2 separate regions of the Homo sapiens genome follow, and region 2 is linked to region 1. The links come from fine-mapping of genetic effects on plasma protein levels. A gene starts in region 1. The other region holds a variant in brackets. All regions are shown on one strand. Distances are between the middles of the regions.

Evidence for each region. PIP is the posterior inclusion probability: the model's chance that the variant is causal. Protein levels are from antibody-based Olink assays in UK Biobank. Linkage for the fine-mapping came from a reference panel and not from the study's own genotypes, which makes the PIPs less certain.
Region 2: its variant is fine-mapped to the plasma level of the ACY3 protein (UK Biobank, PIP above 0.99).

Annotation. Positions count from the first base shown.
Region 1 is chr11:67,647,786-67,662,549 of GRCh38, reverse strand. It overlaps ACY3 (aminoacylase 3), which reads left to right and starts at 11,820. Exons shown (of 8, transcript NM_080658.2): 1 at 11,820-11,967. ALDH3B2 (aldehyde dehydrogenase 3 family member B2) reads left to right here. Exons shown (of 10, transcript NM_001393402.2): 10 at 1-395. RefSeq lists enhancers at 11,539-11,598, 11,669-11,748, 13,479-13,898, 13,426-13,948, 14,359-14,438 and 1 more.
Region 2 is chr11:67,199,912-67,207,911 of GRCh38, reverse strand. KDM2A (lysine demethylase 2A) reads right to left here. Exons shown (of 21, transcript NM_012308.3): 6 at 224-402. Among named protein-coding and RNA genes, the nearest start is that of GRK2, 63 kb to the left of the region's middle. The variant A/G (reference allele first, on the strand shown) is at 3,712.

The DNA.
Region 1 (14,764 bases):
AGTCACTTATGCCAAACTCTAATAAAATGGAGTCGGGGGGCCACATAGAAGCCCTCACACACACATGCCCGTAACAGGATTTATCACAAGACACGCCTGCATGTAGACCAGACACAGGGCGTATGGAAAGCACGTCCTCAAGACTGTAGTATTCCAGATGAGCTGCAGATGCTTACCTACCACGGCCGTCTCCACCAGAAAACCATCGCCAACTCCTGCGATCAGCTTGTGACTTACAAACCTTGTTTAAAAGCTGCTTACATGGACTTCTGTCCTTTAAAAGCTTCCCCTTGGCTGTGGCCCTCTGTGTATGCCTGGGATCCTTCCAAGCACTCATAGCCCAGATAGGAATCCTCTGCTCCTCCCAAATAAATTCATCTGTTCTGGAGAGCCTATCTTTCTGAGGTTGACACTTATCTTGCAGAATGGGGTTCCCACCCATCTTTGATCATGAAGGAAATCTCAGATTTAGAACTATGTTGCCCAGGCTGCTCTTGAACTCCTGGGGTCAAGCAGTCTACCTCGGCCTCCCAGAATGCTGGGATTACAGGCGTGAGCCACCATTCCCAGCCCACATTTCTTAAAAATGGTATTTCAGTCCAAACCTTAGTAATACAATCGATGTTTCTAATTGTGTCCTGCTTACAGGGACCAGGGTTTGTTTTTCGTTTTTGTTTTTTGTTTTTTTATTTTTTGAGGTGGCATCTCCCTCTGTAGCCCAGGCTGAAGTACAGAGGCACAATCTCGGCTCACTGCAACCTCTGCCTCCCGGGTTCAAGTGATTCTCCTGCCTCAGTCTCCCTAGTAGCTGGGATTACAGGTGCCCGCCACCATGCCCAGCTAATTTGTTCTATTTTAGTAGAGATGAGGTTTCACCATGTTGGCCAGGCTGGTCTTGAAATTCTGACTTCAGGTGATCCTCCCACCTTGGCCTCTGAAAGTGCTGGGATTACAGGCGTGAGCCACTGTGCCCAGCCCTGAGAGCAGGGTTTTTGTTTGTTTGTTTTTGTTTGTTTGTTTTACTATATATAAATAAGAATGTTCATGAATAGTTTCTGAATTTTGTAGGAATCAAGTAGGGAGAAAAAATGAATAAGTTCCACCTTTGTTCACAAAGGACCCTTGATCGAGTTATTGCAAATGTCGATCAAAAGAGTCAAACTCTGTACAATATTTAAGAGACTTATTCTGAGCCAAAGATGAATGACCACGGCCCGTGACACAGCCCTTAGGAGATCCTGAGAACATGTACCCAAGACTGTCAGGTCACAGCTTGGATTTATACATTTTAGGGAGACGTGACGCATCAATCAATACGTGCAAGATATATGTTGGTTTGGTCCAGAAAGATGGGACAACTCAAAGCAGGGGCTTCCAGGCTATAGGTACATTTAAAATTTTCCTGGTTGACAATTGGTTGAGTTTATCTGAAGACCTGGGATCAACACAAAGGAAATGTTCATGTTAAGATAAAGGATTGTGGAGACCAAGTTTTATTGTGCAGAGGAAGCTCTCAGATAGTAGGCTGTAAAATCTTTCTTTTTCTTTTTTTTTTTTTTTTTTGAGATGGGGTCTTGCTGTGTTGCCCAGGCTGGAGTGCAGTGGAGTGATCTCAGCTCACTGCAACCTCTCCCTCCTGCGTTCAAGTGATTCTCCTGCCTCAGCCTCCTGAGCAGCTGGGATTACAGGCGTGCACCACCACGCCTGGCAAATTTTTGTATTTTTGTAGAGACAGGGTTTCATCACGTTGGCCAGTCTGGTCTTGAACTCCTGACCTCAAGTGATCCACATGCCTCGGCCACCCAAAGAGCTGGGATTACAGGTGTGAGCCACTGCACTGGCCTGAAGTGTTTCTTATCTAACATAAAAGGGTGCCTGGTTCTTAGTTGATTATCTCCTGGATCTGGAAAGAAGTTAGAAAAAAGGGAAAATGGGATTCTCTACAGAATGTAGATTTTTTCCACAGGAGACAACTTTGCAGGGCAGTTTCAAGATATGGCAAGCAAATATATTTGGGGTTAAAATATTTTGATTTCTTCTCTTATTTGTTATGTGAGGTTATGCCAGAGTCAGGTCAGAAAGCAGACCACGCTATAGGGTTAAAATTAAAGCCTCTCTGATGAGACTTTATGGTTTGTAGGGTGTGACTCCCCAGGCCCCTTAGGGAGGAATTTGAGCAAAATAAGAACAAAAAAAATCAGAGTTTAGTCCTCACAAACTATAGGCAGGTTATGACAGAAAATTTCCTTGAATCTGCAAAACAAAATGAGGTGATAGTCTCACATTTAAGTCATAAAAACATTATTCATATCAATTACTTAATTTCATGTAATTATTTTTGTTTTGCTCAATCTTTTTATTTATTTATTTTTAAGACAGAGTCTCGCTCCATCACCCAGGCTGGAGGGCAGTGGTGCAATCTTGGGTCACTGCAACCTCCACCTCCCATGTTCAAGCGATTCTCCTGCCTCAGCCTCCTGAGTAGCTGGGATTACAGTTGCCCGCCACCACACCAGGCTAATTTTTTTGTATTTTTAGTAGAGGCAGGGTTTCACCTTGTTGGCCAGGCTGTTCTCAAACTCCTGGCCTCAAGTGATCCATCCACCTTGGCCTCCCCAAGTGCTGAGATTACAGGTGTGGGCGACAAGCCACCCAGGTGCCAAGGCAAGAGACTGAGGGCACAAGCTGTCCCAGTATAATAAAGAAAATATATAGAATAAGAATAGTTATACTAGAAATAGATTATAGATATGATTGTATATGAGTATCATTAATCATTAGTTTGTAGCATCACTCTTTATTCCAATATTATAATAATCTTTGTTCTATAATTATAACCCAGGAAAAACCAGGCCATACAGAGATAGGAGCTGAAGGGGCACGGTGAGAAGTGACCAGATGAGTGTGAGCCCTCTGTTACGCCTGGACAGGGCCACTAGAGGGCTCCCTGGTCTAGTGGTAACACCAGCACCTGGGAAGGCATCCATTACCTAGCGGACCTTGGTCTAGGCGTAGCATCAGTGCCTGGGGAAGGCACCCGTTACTTAGCAGACTGGGAAAGGGAGTCTCCCTTTTCCTGGGGGAGTTAGAGAAGACTCTGCTCCACCACCTCTTGTGGAAGGCCTGACATCAGTCAGGCCCACCTACAGCCATCTGGTGGCCTGTCTCCCTGTGATGCTGTGCTTCAGCGGTCACGCTCCTGTTTCACATTCATGTTATGCTCCGTACACCTGGCTCTGCCTTCTAGATAGCAGTAGCAGTATTAGTGAAAGTATTAAAGTCTTTGATCTTTCTGAGAAGAGCATAGAAGAAATAATGATGTAAGCTGTCCTCTGTCTCTCCGCCTTGGCTACCTAAAGGGAAAGGCCCCCTGTCTGGTGGACACTTCACTCGCGTGACTTTATCAATCATTGGAGATGACTCACACTCCTTACCCTGCCCCTTTTACCTTGTATCCAATAAATAACAGTGCGGTCAGGCATTTGGGGCCACTACCGGTCTCCACACCTTGGTGGTAGTGGTCCCCTGGGCCCAGCTGTGTTTTCTTCTATCTCTTTGTCTTGTGTATTTATTTCTACCATCTCTCATCTCCACACATGAAGAGAAAAAACCCACATATCCTGTAGGGCTGGACCCTACAACAAGCGTGAGCCACTGCACCTGGCCAGTTTTGCTCAATCTTAATTAGCAATTTTGGACCATAGCCAATTGTGAATGCTTCCAGAGAAGAATTTAAAACAACTGTGGGTGGCAGGGCATGGTGGCTCACGCCTATAATCCCAGCATTTTGGGAAGCCAAGACGGGAGAATCACTTGAGCTCAGGAGTTTGAGACCAGCCTGGGAAACATGAGACCTTGTCCTTATAAAAAAATAAAGACAATTAGCTGGGCACAGTGGAGCACCCCTGTAGTCCCAGCTACTCAGGAAGCTGAGGTGGGAGGATCACTTGAGCCTGGGAGGTTAAGGCTGAAGTGAGCTGTGATCACGCCACTGTACTCCAGCCTGGGCAATAGAGTGAGACCCTGACTGAAAAATAAGAATTAACTGTGGGTGACAAAAGCCCAGAGCAGCCAGTCAGAGATCTGATGACAATTTACAATTGACAGGAAATTTCAGCATTTCTTTTTTTTTCCTTTTTCTTTTTGAGACGGAGTCTCACTCTGTCACCCAGGCTGGAGTGCAGTGGCGCATTCTCAGCTCACTGCAAGCTCCGCCTCCCAGGTTCACACCATTCTCCTGTCTCAGCCTACCGAGTAGCTGGGACTACAGGTGCCCACCACCATGCCCGGCTAATTTTTTATATTTTTAGTAAAGACAGGGTTTCACCATGTTAGCCAGGATGGTCTCAATCTCCTAACCTCGTGATCCACCCGCCTCGGCCTCCCAAAGTGCTGGGATTACAGATGTGAGCCACCGTGCCCGGCCAGAAATTTCAGCATTTCTCTGGCATACAACCATGTGACACAACCATCACAGTCATGACACATATCTTGGCATATCAGAGTTTTAGGAATCTCAAACCTTTTCCCCTGTGTTAGTGACACACTTACACAAACATTACTTAAAGGAAGTTAAACACCGTTTCTATTTGACAATGCTTCCCATATTATTTACCAAGTAAGCCTGATCATTTAATATCTCCAAAAGATCAGAGACAAAACCTTTGAGGCTTGTTCCAGGAGGCCCTTTTGGTAGAATCTCAAAGTTGATTTTAGGCCAGATGGCTTAATTTAGGATTTGGATCCTGGGGAATTCTGCCAAAGAGGATGTCAAAAAGTTCAAATGGCTTCCTTCAACAGAATCAGAGATCACTGCCGAATAATAGTTACTCGTTTAACCACAGTGACAATCAAAAGAATTCAAAAGCAACACGAAAAGTTACATGCATGGAAAAACCTTAACACTTTAAAGCTCAGTCTCCCTAAGCAATCTGTGTTTCCTAGGCTGGTGAGCAGGGGAATACATTAGTAATACCATGGGAAGTCCTGGTTACATGAAACAACTCAGACACATTAAGAAAAACCAAGAACACAGAATCAGTTTATACTGGCGTAAAGCTGCTTTTCTAGACCTTTGAGATAAACCTGAAACCAAAGAAATTAGACTGATCTTAAGAAGGAATATGACAGAAACAGAAACTAATTTGTAATTCAGAGAATGGCTATTAACGAAGCAGGTTTTAGAAATAAATATCAAAACCTCTTGGAACTTTACTAAGAGTGAATTAATGTCTTAAGAAACTGCTGTTTTTTGTTTGTTTGTTTTTAAGACGGAGTCTCGTTCTGTCACCCAAGCTGAAGTGCAGTGGTGTGATCTCGGCTCACTGCAAGCTCCGTCTCCTGGGTTCACGCCATTCTCCTGCCTCAGCCTCCTGAGTAGCTGGGACTGCAGGTGCACGCCCCCAAGCCTGGGTAATATTTTGTATTTTTAGTAGAGACGGGGTTTCACCATGTTAGCCAGGTTGGTCTCAAATCTCCTGACCTCATGATCCACCTGCCTCGGCCTCCCAAAGTGCCTGGATTACAGGCATGAGCCACTGCGCTCAGCCGAAACCACTGTTGTTTTAACACAGGGGACCAAAATTGTAAGTTATGTATCATGTGTTTTAACATTCAAATTCATTCTCTAGAAAAACTGTTACAGGCCAGGCATGGTGGCTCATGCCTGTAATCCCAGCACGTTGGGAGGCCAGGATCACCTGAAGTCAGGAGTTCAAGACCAGCCTGGCCAACATGGTGAAACCCCATCTCTACTGAATATACGAAAATTAGCCAGGCATGGTAGTGCACGCCTGTAATCCCAGCTACTCAGGAGGCTGAGGCAGGAGACTCACTTGAACCCAGGAGATGCAAGTTGCAGTGTGGCAAGATCGAACCACTGCACTCCAGCCTTGGCAAATGAGCAAGACAGCCAGACTCCATCTCAAAAAAAAAAAAAACTATTACAAATCATTTCATTTAATTACAGCCAATTTAATCACACCCAACATTTCCATCATAAGTTCCCATTCACAAGCCTTATCATGACTTACTCAGACAGCTGTGGCATGCTTGGACTTGCCCTGTACTTCCTCTTTCTTAAATGTCTAGTCATTTTAGTCCAAGACAGAGATTGAACACACAAGTTTCTTTCCTATACAAAATTACTCTCATTGCTTCACATCTGTAATTTTCTTTACATCTCTGTCTCATCTACTTACTGGTTCCTTTTAATCTTTTTTCTATTTCTTTCCTAAATCCATATTTTAAAACTCCCTTTAAATAACAGCTAAATTAGACAAATTACTTTTTTTCTCAATAAAGAATATATTGTATACCTTTCTTACTGTTTTCTTATTAAGTGCTCCTTACTTTTGGCACACTTCCTATATAGAATTGTATATTAGGATTTTTAAAAACCCTTAGTACTCTTAAATTTTTGTTTTTAATTATCTTTTTTCTTTTTTTGAAACAAGGTCGTGCTCCATCACCCAGGCTGGAGTGCAGTGGCATTGATTTTGGCTTACTGGAGCCTTGACCTCCCTGGCTCAAGTGATCCTCCCACCTCAGCCTCCTGAGTAGCTGGGACTACAGTAGGCATGTGCCACCACCCCTGGCTAATTTTTTCTTTTTTGTTTTTCAGTAGAGACAGAGTTTCACTATGTTGCCCAGGCTGGTCTGAACCTCCTGATCTCAAACGATCCTCCTGCTTCAGCTTCCCAAAGTGCTGGAATTACAGGCATGAGCCACAGTGCCCATCCAGTTCCCTTAAATTTTGTTGAAAACATAGGAAGCACAAAATCTTGAACTTCCTATCACATATTGGTATTTTATGGGGAAGAGCCATTTTGTAATTGTTAGAAAAACATGTTTTCCTATAGCATAATTTTTATACGTATTTATAGGCCCAAACATATTTAGTCTTTATATTAAATTTAAGAGACCCAGGGCAAACATATTTATGGTCAGCAATTTGTTCCAGTTTTTGTCTTATTTGGAAATAACTCACATAGTTAATGAGTATCCATTACCTAATAGAGGATTTCAAATTACATTAAAAAGCCGATAGATACTTATCCCATTTACCTTTACATACTTTATTTATTTTTAGCAGTTTACCAGGATTACTTATGAGAACTGATATATTAGACAAAGCTAGTCATCATTTCAAATTATTTATCTGTTAATTACCTTTATATAGCTGGATGTCAGGCAACTATCATAAAAGTAAGAACCTTTAAGGCCGGATGCTGTGGCTCACGCCTGTAATCCCAGCACTTTAGGAGGCCGAGGTGGGCAGATCACGAGGTCAGGAGATCAAGACCATCCTGGCTAACACAGTGAAACCCCATCTCTACTAAAAAAAAAAAAAAAATACAAAAAATTAGCCGGGCGTGGTGGCAGGCGCCTGTAGTCCCAGCTACTCGGGAGGCTGAGGAAGGAGAATGGCGTGAACCCGGGAGGCAGAGCTTGCAGTGAGCCGAGATCACGCCACTGCACTCCAGCCTGGGCGACAGAGCGAGACTCCGTCTCAAAAAAAAAAAAAAAAAAGTAAGAACCTTTAAGTTACATTTCAGAAGGCACACCATTCCCATCAAACCAACAATTTTAGACTAGTTCCATTCACCAAAAGATTACTGTCATGTGAACTTGAAAAGCACTTGGTCTTATTTGCTTAGTTTATGAGTACTCATTTCTTTATAAGCCAATTCGGTACCATAGCCAAATATAACCGGACGTGTACATACTACCAGATACAAATAACGATCCTATAGCTTTAACTTTTAAAGGTTTAGCCATGGGTCAGGTAAAATTCACTACTTAAAAGACAGTTCCAACTCTGTCTCCGTCCAACTAACAATTTTAGCTAAAATTTATCTCTCCCATACAGCAGAAGCCCTTTCCTAAATTTTAGGAAGAACACGGTAGAAAGGAGACAGGCAAAAATTTGGCTCTAGTGTCGGAAAACCCGTGAGTCTCTCCCACAGCAATTGTTACCCGATCTAGGGGTTCCCAGATCATAGAGGAGTCCCCAAGTCCCATCACTTCTGGTCACTATTAGCAAACTGTAGCATCTGGTGGGCTGATTGACGGGGAAGTTTCTTTCCCTACCCACTGGGGACAGTTAGGACACTCTAGTACCCAATGGCCCTCTTGTTTACAATATGCACACTGTTGTGTTCTCAAGGGCGGGAGGCCCTTTGGCCGGGCAGTGGGGTCCCTAGGGATCTTACTTATGGCTGATCATCTCCAGTGAACTGTTTTGTTTTTTTGTTTTTTGTTTTTTTCAAGAAAGAGTTTTGCTCTTGTCGCACAGGCTAGAGTGCAATGGCGCGATATCAGCTTACAACCTTCGCTTCCTGGGTTGAAGCGATTCTCCTGCTTCAGCCTCCCGAGTAGTTGGGATTACAAGTGCCCACCACCATGCCTGGCTAATTTTTTATATTTTTAGTAGAGACAGGGTTAGCCATGTTGGCCACGCTGGTCTTGAACTCCTGACCTCAGGTGATCCTCCCGCCTCAGCCTCCCAAAGTGCTGGGATTACGGACATGAGCCACCACGCCTGGCCGCAGTGAACTGTTTCTTGTGTACTGGCTGGTTGTAGCCAAGAGACTCGATGGCTTCTTGTCTTGTGTTGCCTTTTTGTTTTTTGTTTTTTGTTTTTTTTTTGCCCTTCCTGGACCTGGCCACAGTTGCTCAATACCTTAAGGGTAATCTCAACCAATGGAGATGTCAGCATCCCCAGTGTCCCTTCTGCTTTTTGTAGTTTATCCGCATGGCTTCTGCCACTGGAGTCCTGCTACAATTACTGTTTTCCCATATTACCCACCCAGCAGCTTAGAGGCGGGATTGGTGGTGACACAGATCCCACAACTCTTGGCCCACACTCAACTAGTTTTAAAAATATATTGGTGGGGAGGGGCGGGCATGGTGGCTCATGCCTATAATCACCACGCTTTGGGAGGCCGAGGTGGGTGGATCACTTGAGCTTAGGAGTTCGAGACCAACCTAGGTAAGATGGTGAAACCCTGTCTCTATAATATTAGGTTGGTTCAAAAGTAACCGCTGTTTTTGCCATTGAAAGTAATGGCAAAAACTGCAATTACTTTTGTACCAATCTAATTTTTTAAAAATTAATTAATTAAAAAAAATTGGAAGGCATAGATTTCACTCGGCAAGGCAGGAAATCTTGTAACTGCTCTATACTGTGGCTCTGCCGACCGCCCGGCACTGCTCCAGCAGATGCAAACTGCCCGAGATTTTGATGAATTCACTGAAGGAAATAAAGACATTGTGTTTAAAAACACAGCAGAAAGGTTGGGTGTGGTGGCTTATGCCTGTAATCTCAGCACTTTAGGAGGCTGAAGGGGGTGGATCACTTGAGCTCAGGAGTTTGAGACCAGACTGGACAACATAGCAAGACCCCATCTCAAAAAAAAAATTAGCTGGGTGCGTGCCTGTAGTTTCAGCTACTTGGGAGGCTGAGATGGGAGGACTGCTTGAACCTGGAAGTTGGAGGTTGCAGTGAGCCACAGTCGAGCCACTGCACTCCAGCCTGGGTGACAGAGCCGGACCTTGTCTCAAAATTAAAAAAAAAAAAAACCCACTGCAGAAGACCTTCAGAATTGCTTGCCTCTAGAAACCATGCTTTCCTCAGAACATCTAACCCTTCAAAAACTACAGCAGCAGCCAGAACCCACCATTCACGCTGACGCATTCCTTTGTGATAAAGACTTCATTGATTCATTATGTGACAAAGGGAAAATGAGCAGAAACTACTGGGTGGTTCACACCAAACAGAACCTTTAGACCGATTGCTCGTTCCTTCTCCCTCATGGAATTGAAGTTCATTTATCTTCATGCACTCCCTGATCAATCAGGAAAGGCTGTGGCTGACGTCAGCTCCAGGCTCAGCACAGTCTTTATGGGGTGATCTTATAGCTTAGCAGTGCAACCCTGTGGAGTAGAACTGAACGGAGACTTTTGCCAGTTGCAGGAAATGGTCATTAAAAAATACCAGTTTATTCACAGAATAAAGGTGCTTCATGCAGACATCTGTCCCCAGGGTTTCTTCTGCAAAATGCTGATGCTGCTATCATGAATAATGTCTTCAAATATTCTCTTAATGAGGCAGAACAAGCCGGAGCTGGGAATACATTTGTCATAATGTAAGGAAGCAGATCATCATCAGTGACAGTGCCAAGTCTTGAAGATTCTCTCCTGGGTCTTCAGACTAATACACATTTATCTCCCTGGGTTGAAGAAGTACTGTGGGACTATGATGTATACCCACAAAAGGATATTGACAAAGAAGCTCTTTATTTATTTATTTATTTATTTATTTATTTATTTATTTATTTATTTTCTTTTGAGACAAGGTCTCACTGTGTTGTCTAGCCTGGAATGCAGCCATACGATAACGGCTCACTGTACTCACGGTACGATTACCTCCAACTCCCCGTGCTCAAGTGATTCTCCCGCCTCAGCCTCCTGAGTAGCTGGGGCCACAGCTGTGTGTGCCACCACCTGGCTAATTTTTTTTTTTTTTTTTTTTTGAGACAGAGTTTCGCTCTTGTCGCCCAGGCTGTAGTGCAATGGCATGATCTCGGCTCACTGCAACCTCTGCCTCATGCCTCAGCCTCCCAAGTAGCTGGGATTACAGGCACCCACCACCATGCCTGGATAAATTTTGTATTTTTAGTACAGACGGGGTTTTGCCATGTTGCCCAGGCTGGTCTTACACTCCTGACATCAGGTGATCCACTCGCCTCAGCCTCCCAAAGTGCTGGGATTATAGGTGTGAGCCACCGCGCCCACCCTAATTTTTTTTTTTTTTTTGGTAGAGACAGGGTCTCCCTATGTTGCCCAGGCTGGTCTTGAACACCTAGGCTCAAGCAATCTGCCCCCCTTGGCCTCCCAAAGTGTTGGGGTTACAGGTGTGAGCCACTGCACCCAGCTGACAAAGAAGCTCTTGAACAAATTCATTTAATGAGATTCTCTAGCACTAAAATAGTCCTACCTCATTGTAATGTTTTGTAGAGTATCTTATAAAACAATGAAAAAAAACCAGTATTTTAATACATATTTTTCTGTATATTTCCTTCTAGCCTTTGTACATATGATCACATATTTGTAAAAAGTTGTATGTATATATATACAACTTTACCCGCTTTGTGTGATGATATGACAAAAACATTTATCTGAAAAAAGTATTTTTTTCATCAAATGGCAGAGCTCCTGTTTCTGGTAACCCGGGGTATGGCAAGTAGGGGCTCTGGGAGATGGAGCAGCTCAGCCTCCTGTGAAAAATTCTGTTTCTCTAAAAAAGAACAAATTCTCATGCTGGGCGCGGTGGCTCACGCCTGTAATCTCAGCACTTTGGGAGGCCGAGGCGGGCGGATCACGAGGTCAAGAGATCGAGACCATCCTGGCTAACACGGTGAAACCCCGTCTCTACTAAAAATGCAAAAAATTAGCCGGGCGTGGTGGCGGGCGCCTGTGGTCCCAGCTACTCAGGAAGCTGAGGCAGGAGAATGGCGTGAACCCGGGAGGTGGAGCTTGCAGTGAGCCGAGATCGCGCCACTGCACCCCAGCTTGGGTGACAGAGCCAGACTCTGTCTCAAAAAAAAAAAAACGAATTCCCAAAACTAGTCCCACTGTTGTCTACCCAGATCCGGGATCCGGGTTGCCCTTGGCCTGGCCAGAGATGCCTCTCAATCCCCCACGGCACGTAGAGCCAGACAGAAACCGAAAGCAGAGGTGCCCTGCGCTGAAGTCTAGAGATCCCACTGCTAGGTCCAAAGAATTTACCCTTTCAGTCAACCCACGGGGCAAAGTCCACTTTCTTCCCTGAAGGAGCAGCACAGAACAAAAGCTCCAGGCAGCTGCTTCCGCTGTTTCGGGGGTAGGGCGGAGTGACAGCCCCACGGGCCACGCAGCAAGCAGAAGATCCCCGGGAGTCACCCTCAACCCTCTGGGGCCACGTGGGTGAGTTCGCCCGGGGAAGGTGCCGCGGCCCACTGCTTTACCTTAGTGAGCCTCAAGAAGTTAGGATCAGAATCCCAGTCGGCCCCATCTGGGTCGCCAGAGTTTTGTTACCCACACAACGGGTGGGCTCAGTTGCTTGGCGGGTGTTAACTAAAGAGGATTTAATAGGGGATTTTATTTCTTGCAACAAGTAAGGAGAACACCTAGACAGCTCCCAAAGCAGTGTCTCCCCGAGCTGAGGGCTGGGGCAGGTTTTATAAGCATAGGGTAATGAGGCGTGATCTGATTGCATCTTGCAATGAGGTGATGCTGGGAGGCATGATCTAATTGGATGCTGACACAGGGGGGAACCACAGCTCTGACCCCTCTCTGGGTCTCAGTTTCCCCAACTGCAGTGAGGAAATTGGCCCCCGTGATGATGCCCATGACATCACCATCCTCTGCCCTCACTCATGCTGGGGTCTCCATGTGCCCATTTTCAAGCTTGTGCCCGCCCTTTGTTCCTCACTCCCCACAGCTGCCCTTGGCCAGGACTTTCACAGGGTGGAGCCAAGGCCCAGAGAGGGCACTGAATCTCTCCAGGTCACACAGCCTGTCAGGGAGGTGGGGCCAGAGCCAGGTCACACGTGTGCACACAACACACACACACGCACACATGCTCACGCACATGCACGCACACACGCTCTCAAGCACATGCACACATGCACACACATGCACACACACTCTCATGCACACACGCACACATGTACACACACATGCATGCACACATGCACACAATACTCTCATGCACATGCACACACGTACACACGCACACATGCATGCTGTCACACATGCGCACACACGCACACATGCTCTCATGCACACACGCACACATGTACACATACATGCACACATGCACACAATACTCATGCACATGCACACACATGTACACACGCACGCACACACGCATGCTGTCACGTACACATGTGAGTGCACACACGCACACACATGCTCTCATGCACACGCACACATGTACAGATGCACACATGCATGCACACACATGCACACACGCGCACACACTGCCAGGACTGGGGGCTGCTGTTTCTGAGGGTTCCTGGACCCCGTTCTGTTCCATAAACACTCACTGAAATGCAGAAGCTGGACCCCAGCCAAGGGAAGTGAAACTTTCCAGCACCCCTACTGCTGTTCTCCCTAAACTTGGGGGCCCAGCACCTTGTGGCAGGAAGCACCCTGGCCCCCAGCAGCCCCCAAAATAGCTAGGTCTGCCACGGAGGCCCTTCCTTCCTGAGAGGTACCACACCGAGTCAGCAGGATCCCAGCCTCTGTGGGGGTTGGGGGGGCCTTCCAACAAAGACCATGGCCTGGGACTCATAAAGCAGCATGGGGGTCCCTGAGACCCCTACCCCAAGCAAGGAAGGAACAGACCCAGGCCGACAGGCTCCTCTGCTGACTCCCTCTCCCACCACCTGCCAAGGACTCAGTCAAGTCACCCAACCCCTAGAGCTTCAGTCCACACCTGCAAAATGGAGCCGGTGACAGCTGCCCCCAGGGCTGGGCCGGATACAGGAGTTGATGGCATGGCATGGCCCCCTAATGGCAGTCTCTGCCCTCCCTTTGCTGAGGCTCCAGGTGCCAGGAGGAGTGGCCCCTGGAGGGGGCTCATAGGGAGCCCCGGCCCACTGGGGGCTCAGCCTCACACTCCATCCACCCCTCTTGACACCCTGTCAAGATCCCAGCTGCCCTGATGGGAGCCAGGATGACAAATCCCCTGTCCCCACAATCGCCATGCTCTGAGCTCACGAAGCCTTGGGTGTGGAGGGCAGGAGAGCCCAGGCCACACAGAGCTGAGTGTGATCTGGGGCAGCTTCCGAGAGGGTGTAACTTAGAGGGTCCTGGCCACCCAGAGCCCCCCAGGCTGGTGGGCCTGGCATCTGGAGCAGGGCTGGACTGGCCCGGGGAGACCCAGTGTGGTGGTAAAGAAGGCCCAGGATCGATGCCTGGGGGAGGCTCCAGCTCAGGGTCCCAGCACCTGGCATCCAGCAGGCCCTGGCGGAGCAGCTTGCCTCACTCCCCAGTGACTTCGGAACTGGCCTCAGCTCCTCCCAGCAGACAGCTGAGCCTGGTGGGAGGTAGAGGCCCCAGGGCTGAGTGCAGGGGACCTCACCTTCATCCTTCCCCACTTTGCTCTTGAGAGGCAGCAGGAGGGGATGGAGCCACATTGGACGCACTGAGTGCCACCTACAGCCCGCCTCTAGGGCTCTGTGCGCCACCTGCAGCCCGCCTCTAGGGCTCTGTGTGCCGCTGAACAGTCTGCCCCTAGGGTTCTGTGGGCCACCTGCAGCCTGCCTCTAGGGCTTGTGTGCCTGCAGACAATTTTCTGAGCCTCAGTTTTCACATCTATAAAATGAGCCTGAGGGTTGTTCCCAAAACAGGGCAAACCGAGTCATCTGAGTTACACTGTCCTTGAAAATGACTGAAATCCCGGATCAAACATTTTAAAATTTTGCTTAAAGCAACAAAGAGCTGTAAAACTGGGGCTCCACATGGCACCTTTGGGTAAGGGCGACTCAGGAGTGACCACAGCCCTCTCCGGGCTGCAAGGACAGAGGCATGTTGCCGAGGTGGTGAAGGAGGGGCAGCTTGTCATCTTGGTGGCCATCAAGGTGACACCTCTATAGTAACTTTCAATAGCCTGCTCTGGTGGTGACCAAAACCAAGTCACCACCCCACTGCGGGTGTACCTCTTAGTAGTGTTAAGGAAGGTGGCCCCTCTGGGGCCCAGCAGAAGGACGAAGGG
Region 2 (8,000 bases), 450 kb after region 1:
CTACAGACATGTGCCATCACACCCAGCTAATTTTTTTTTTTGTACTTTTTGTAGAGATGTGGTTTCACCATGTTGCCCCGGCTGCTCTCAAACTCCTCAGCTCAAGCGATCTGCCTCCCTTGGCCTCCCAAAGTGCTGGGATAACAAGCATCAGTTACCAACGTCCAGCCGAAAACAACCCTTTTGGTGACAATGACAATATGAAGAAAATGATTACACTAACCGTGGAGGGCCTCTGCACCATATTCTCCAGCCTGGTGTGGCTAAACTCGAGGCTGATGACATTATAGAGTTTCTCTCGCTCCTCCTCTGGGGTCTCATAGTAGCGTGTCCACTGAGCCATGGTCATTTCAATGCCTTTCTGTGTGTTCACGTCCATGACATCCACCATGCGACGACTCCCTGCCATAAAAGATGCATCGATCATCTCTATCGAGCCACTAATATCCTTAAATATAGTAAGAATATTTTTTAAAAAGTAGAAGAAAAAATACTGTCCTTTCTTATTTTCAATAATACACAAGGAAAAAGTTCTCACTCAACAATCATAATCAAATCACAAAGAATGGGAAAGACAATGGATAATGTTAATAATAATTATTCCCTAAGGCATGTTTACTATACAGTCAGTTGTTGACTCTTTTATCTAATGTCTCATTTAATCCTAACAATTCTAAATGCTAAATACTAATCTCCACTTCATACATGAGAAAGCAGATGTTAGGTAACTTACAGAACAAAGCAGGAAAAGAACCGGGGCAGGCTCACTCTAGAGTCAAGCTCTTACTTACTGATCTATACTGATTTGATGCAGGTTGACCTAATCTATCTCATAATTTGAATGAAGTATCCATAATTTAGTGGGTAACAGACTGATTTTGAATTTATATTCTTTTGTTAAACAGGGCTATTTCGCAAACCTGTTGCTAATATCCTAGCCCATGAAGATAATTATCCTAGTTCATGAAGAACAAAGTCCCCTTTTCATTTATTCCACAAATATTTATAGAATGATAAAGACACCAGGATGGACACGAAAATCTATATCAGATTCTTGTTAACTATAACAACTACAACAAAACGCATAAGGCCACAAGAGTCAGCATAAAATAGTAGTGGAGAGAAAACAATAGCTTTGGAGTCAAAGAGACCTAAGTTTGTTTATTTATTTTTTAGAGACGGAGTCTCGCTCTGTCGCTCAGGCTGGAGTGCAGTGGCACGCTCTCGGCTCACTGCAACCTCCCACCTCCTGGGTTCAAGCAGTTCTCCTGCCTCAACCTCCACAGTAGCTGGGACTACAGGCACACGCCACTACCCCACCTAATTTTTTGTATTTTAGTAGAGACGGGGTTTCACCATGTTGCCCAGGATGGCCTCCAACTCCTGAGCTCAGGCAATCCGCCTGTCTTGGCCTCCTAAAGTGCTAGGATTACAGGCGTGAGCCACCATGCCCAGCCTATTTATTTCTTTAATTTTATTTTGAGACAGTCTCGCTGTGTCACCCAGGCTGGAGTGCAGTGGTGCGAAATCTTGGCTCACTGCAACCTCCACCTCCCAGGTTCAAGAGATTCTTGTGCCTCAGCCTCCCAAGTAGCTGGGAATATGGCCGTGTGCCACCACGCCTGCCTAATTTTTGTATTTTTGGTAAAGTCAGCGTTTTGCCATGTTGGCCAGGCTGGTCTCAAACTCCTGACCTCAGCTGATCTGCCCGCCTTGGCCTTCCAAAATGCTGGGATTACACATGTGAGCCACTGCACCTGCCTGAGACCTAAGTTTAAATCTCAGCTCCTATACTACTTAGACAAGTTATATAATTTCTCTGAACATTAATATCTTGTGGAGAATGAGTATCACCTTGTGGGCCACTGTGAAGATTTAAAGTCGATAAAGTAAAATGTTTAATACAAAGTAGGTGCTCAAGCGGCAGTAAAAACAAAAGGGAAGTATCATATTTTTATTAGACTGATCAGAAAAGGCTTTAGGAAAAGAGGGAGAAGAATAAGTAGAATTCTAACAAGAGATGATTCAACAGGGACAATTCCATGCAGAGGTAAAATATAAGCTAAAAGATTCAGAAAATGGTGGTCAAGGAAGGGAGAGAAAATAAAAAGCTGACAATATTGTATGTCTGGCCGGGCACGGTGGTGCACATCTATAATCCCATCACTCTGGGAGGTCAAGACGGGCAGACAGCTTCTGTCCAGGAGTTTGAGACCAGCCTGGGTAACATAGCAAAACACCGTCTCTACTAAAAATACAAAAAAAATTAAACATACACACACACAAAACAAAAAAATACAAATACAAATACAAAAAATTAGCTGGGCATGGTGGTGCGTGCCCGTAATCCCGGCTACTCGGGAGGGTGAGGTGTGAGAATCACCTGAGCCCAGGAGGTCGAGGCTGTAGAAAAAAAAAATTTATATCTATTGTCTTCCTTGTAAGACGAACAAACACCTGCCCTGGCTGGATGTATCAGGTAGCATTAGAACCTGATACCCTGTCTCTAAGGAATTTATAGCTTAGTTAAAGATAGGAGATAATACCCAAGAGAAGAATATGGCCACTGTGAAATAGACAAGGCAGAATATATATATTACTAGTAAAACATAACTAATAATGTAAGGCAATGGACAGAACCTACACTTCATATTTTAAAAGAAAAAGTGAATGTCAAATCAAAACTGCCAAGAAATACCACTTCACACCCACTAGGATCGCTATAATTTAAAAAATGGAAAATAATGAGTGCTAGCAAAAATGCAGAGAAATTGGAACCCTCATACATCTACTGGTGGGAATATAAGATGGTGCAGCCGCTATGGAAATTGGATTTGCAGTTCCTCAATAAACTAAACACAGAATGACCATGTGACTCAGCAATTCCACTTCTAGGCATATATCTAAAAGAATTGAACAAGGTGTTCAAACAAAAGCTTGTACATAAATATTCACTGCAGCACTATTTAAAACAGCTAAAAGATGGAAATAACACAAATGTTTACCATGATATGAATAAACAAAATGTGGTTGATCCATACAAGGAAATAGTCGACCATAAAAAGGAATGAAGTACTAATACATGCTACAACATGGATATACCAAGAAAACACACTGTATCAGCTGGGTTTGGTGGCTCACGCCTGTAATCCCAGCACTTTGGGAGGTCGAGGTGGGTGGATCACGAGGTCAGGAGATCAAGACCATCCTGGCTATCACGGTGAAACCCCATCTCTACTAAAAATACAAAAAATTAGCCAGGTGTGGTGGCAGGCACCTGTAGTCCCAGGTACTCGGGAGACTGAGGCAGGAGAATGGCATGAACCCAGGAGGCGGAGCTTGCAGTAAGCAGAGATCACACCACTGCACTCCAGCCTGGGCAACACAGTGAGACTCTGTCTCAAAAAAAAAAAAAAGAAAAAAGAAAACACACTGTATCAAAGAAGCCTACACAAAAGGCTACATATTATATAGTTCCATTTATATGAAATATACAGATTAGACAAATTCACCAAGACAGAATAGATTTGTTGTTGCCAGGAGTTAAGTGGAGGAGAAAACGGAGAATGACTGCTCAAAGGTATGGAGTTTGTTTGGGGTGATGAAATTCTAGAACTAGATAGTGGTGATGGTTGCACACTGTGAAAAAACTTGATGACACTGGTATGCTTTAAAATGGGTACATGACAATGAAATGTTCTATGCAAAAAG[A/G]AAAAAACGTAATGGTTATGATGGTAAACTTTATATTACCTGTATTTAACCATAATTTAAGAAATAACAAGTAAATGCTTTCCTTCAAGAATGTAGGGGAGGCCAGGTGTGGTGACTCACGCCTGTAATCTCAGCACTTTGGGAGGCCGAGGCGGGCAGATCACTTGAGGTCAGGAGTTTGAGACCAGCCTGGCCAACATGGTGAAACCCCATCTCTACTAAAAATACAAAAATTAGCTGGGCGTGGTGGTACGCGGCCATAGTCCCAGCTACTTAGGAGGCTGAGGCAAGAGATTTGCTTGAATTCAAGAGGCAGAGGTTGCAGTGAGCCAAGATCGCACCACTGCACTCCGGACCTGGGCGACACAGCAAGACTCTGTCTTAAAAAGAAAAAAGAAAAAAAAAAAAAAGAATGTAGAGGAAAGCATTTTATTCTTTTTTCCTTTTGAGATGGGGCCTCACTCTGTCACCCAGGCTGGAGTGCAGTGGCACAATCTAGACTCAATGCAACCTCTGCCTCCCAGGCTCAAGTGATCCTCCCACCTCAGCCTCCTGAGTAGCTGGGACTACAGTGCATGCCACCATACCCAGTTAATTTTTTGTATTTTTGGTAAAGACAAGGTTTCACTATGTTGCCCAGGCTGGTATTCTTTTATTACTAGACTACTTATTTATTATATATTTTATATTATATATTATATAAAAATATATTAATATATATTAATAATTATTAATAATTAATAAATATAATTATATTAATATATTATTTATTATAGACTATTTATTACTAGACTATTTTGTATTTTCAGACTACTTAGTATAACCATATCTTGGAGATATTGTGGGTTCAGTTCCAGATCATTGCAATAAAGCAACTATTCCAGTAAGCAAGTCATACAAAACTTTTTGGTTTCACAGTGCATATATTTACATTATACTGTAGGCTATTAAGTGTACAACAGCACTGTATCTAAAAAACAAGGTACATACTTTTATTTAAAAATACTTTATTGCTAAAAATGCTAACAATCATCTGAGCCTTCAGTGAGTCATAATCTTGGCCTGTGGAGGAACTTGCCTCATTGTTGAGGGCTGCTGACTGATCAGAGTGGTGGTGGTTGCTGAAGGTTGGGGTGGATATAGCAACTTCTTTTTCTTTCGCTGAAGTGTAAACCGTTTTTCTTTTTTTTTTTTTTTGGCGGCGGACGGACAGGGTCTTGCTCTGTTGCCCAGGCTGGAGTGCACTGGTGCAATCACAGCTCACCACAGCCACAAACTCCTGGACTCTGGTAATCCTTCCACCTTAGCCTCCGGAGTAGCTGGGACTACAGGCACGTGCCACAATGGCTGGCTAATCCTTTAATTTTTGCCGATACAAGATCTCGCTGTTTCTCGGGTCGACAATTTCTTTTCTTTTTTTTTTTTGAGACGAAGTCTCGCTCTGTCGCCCAGGCTGGAGCGTAGTGGCGCGATCTCGGCTCACTGCAAGCTCCGCCTCCTGGGTTCACGCCATTCTCCTGCCTCAGCCTCCTGAGTAGCTGGGACTACAGGTGCCTGCCACCATGCCTGGCTAGTTTTTTTTTTGTATTTTTAGTAGAGACGGGGTTTCACCATGTTAGCCAGGATGGTCTCAATCTCCTGACCTTGTGATCCACCCGCCTCAGCCTCCCAAAGTGCTAGGATTACAGACGTGAGCCACCATGCCCAGCTGACATTTCTTAAAATAAGACAACAATAAAGTTTGCAACATGGATTGATACTTCCTTTCACAAAGAGACTTCTCTGTAGCATGCAATGCTGTTTGATATCATTTTACCCATGGTAGAACGTCTTTCAAAATTGGAGTCAATCCTCTCAAACCCTACTGCTGCTTTATAAACTCACTTTATGTAATATCCTAAATACCTTGTTATTTTAACAATGTTTACAGCATCTCCACCAGGAGTAGATTCCATCTTAAAAAAACAAACTTCTTTATTTGCTCATCCATAAGAAGCAACTCTTCCATCTGCTCAAGTTTCATTATAGATTGCAGCAATTCAGTCGCATCTTCGACTCCATTTCTAATTCTAGCTCTCTCACTATTTTCACCACATTTGCAGTTACTTCCTCCACTGAAGTCTTGAACCCCTCAAAGTCATCAATAAGGGTGGGAACCAACTTTTTCCAAACTCCTGTTAATGTTGATATTTTGACCTCCTCCCATGTACCACAAATGCTCTTTTTCATTTTAATTATTTTTTTTAGAGACAGGGTCTCACTCTCATGCCCAGGCTGGAATAGAGTGGCAAGATCAGAGCTCATTGCAACCTCGAATTCCTGGGCTCAAGTGATCCTCCCACCTCAGCCACCCAAATAGTTGGGACTACAGGTGTACACCACCAAGCATGGCTAATTTTTTTTTTTTTTTTTTTTTTTTTTTTTTTTTGAGATGGAGTCTAGCTCTGTTGCCTAGGCTGGAGTGTGGTGGGGTGGTGTGATCTTGGCTCACTGCAACCTCCGTCTCCCAGGTTCAAGTGATTCTCCTGCTTCAGCCTCCCAAGTAGCTGGGACTACAGGCCCATGCCACCACACTCGGCTAATTTTTGTATGTTTAGTAGAGACCAGGTTTCACCATACTGGTCAGGCTGGTCTTGTACCCCTGACTTGTGATCTGCCCACCTTGGCCTCCCAAACTGCTAGGATTACAGGCGTGAGCCACCGCACCGGGCCATGGCTAATTTTTTGTAGAGATGGTCTCACTATGTTTCCCAGGCTGGTCTCAAACTCCTGGCCTCAAGGGATCCACCACCTGGGCCTATCAAAACATTGGGATTACAGACATGAGCCACTATGCCTGGCCATAAATATGTTCTTAATGGCATCTACAGTGGTGAATCCTTTCCAGATGTTTTTCAATTTATTTGGTCCAGATTTACCAGCAGAATCACTATGTCAGCTATAGCCTTATGAAATATATATATATACACACACACACACACATATATATATATATATTTTTTTTTTTGAGACAGAGTCTTGCTCAGTCGCCCAGGCTGTAGTGCAGTGGTGCAATCTCGGCTCACTGCAAGCTCCGCCTCCCGGGTTCACGCCATTCTCCTGCCTCAGCCTCCCCAGTAGCTGGGACTACAAGCGCCCGCCACCACGCCCGGCTAATTTTTTTTCTATTTTCAGTAGAGACTGGGTTTCACCGTGTTAGCCAGATGGTCTCAATCTCCTGACCTCGTGATCCACCCGCCTCGACCTCCCAAAGTGCTGGGATTACAGGTGTGAGCCACTGTGCCAGGCCATGAAATATATTTCTTAAATAATAAGACTAAAGTTGAGATTACTCCTTGATCCATGGGCCACAGAATGAATACTGCTATCTGGCATGAAAACGGTATTAATCTCAGGCAAGGCATGGTAGCTCATGCCTGTAATCCCAGCACTTTGGGAAGCTGAGGCAGGCAAATCCCTTGAGCCCAGGAGTTCTAAACCAGCCTGGGTAACAGGGTCAAACTGTGTCTCTACCAAAACACAAAAATTAACTGGGTGTGTTGGCATGTGCTTGTAGTCCCAGCTAAAGGCTGAGGTGGAAGGATCACCTGAGCCCAGGGACACTGAGCCTGCAGTGAGCCATGATTGTACCATTGCACTCCAACTTGGGCAACAGAATGAGACCTTGTCTTAAAAAACCAAACAGGCTGGGCACGGTCGCTCACGCCTATAATCCCAGCACTTTGGGAGGCTGAGGCGGGCGGATCATGAGGTGAGGAGATCGCGATCATCCTGGCTAACATGGTGAAACCCCATCTCTACTAAAAATACGAAAAAAATTAGCCGGACGTGGTGGCGGACGCCTGTAGTCCCAGCTACTCGGGAGGCTGAGACAGGAGAATGGCGTGAACCCAGGAGGTGGAGCTTGCAGTGAGCTGAGATCGTGCCACTGCACTCCAGCCTGGGCAACAGAGAGAGACTCCGTCTAAAAAGAAAAAAAAAAACCACACAAACAATATTAATCTCTTTGTACATTCCCATCAGAGGTCTTGGGTGAAGAGGTACACTGCCAGTGAGCAGTAACATTTTGAAAGGAACCTTTTTTCCTGAGCAGATCTCCACAGTGGGCTTAATAAATTCAGTAAACCATGCTGTAAAACAGATGTGATATCATCTAGGCTTTGTTGTTCCATTAATAGAGTAGATTTAGCATAATTCTTAAGGGCCCTAGGATTTTGGAATGGTAAATAAGCTTTTTTTGGAATGTTAAATTTGGTTTCCAATTAAAATCACCAGCTGCATTAGCCCCT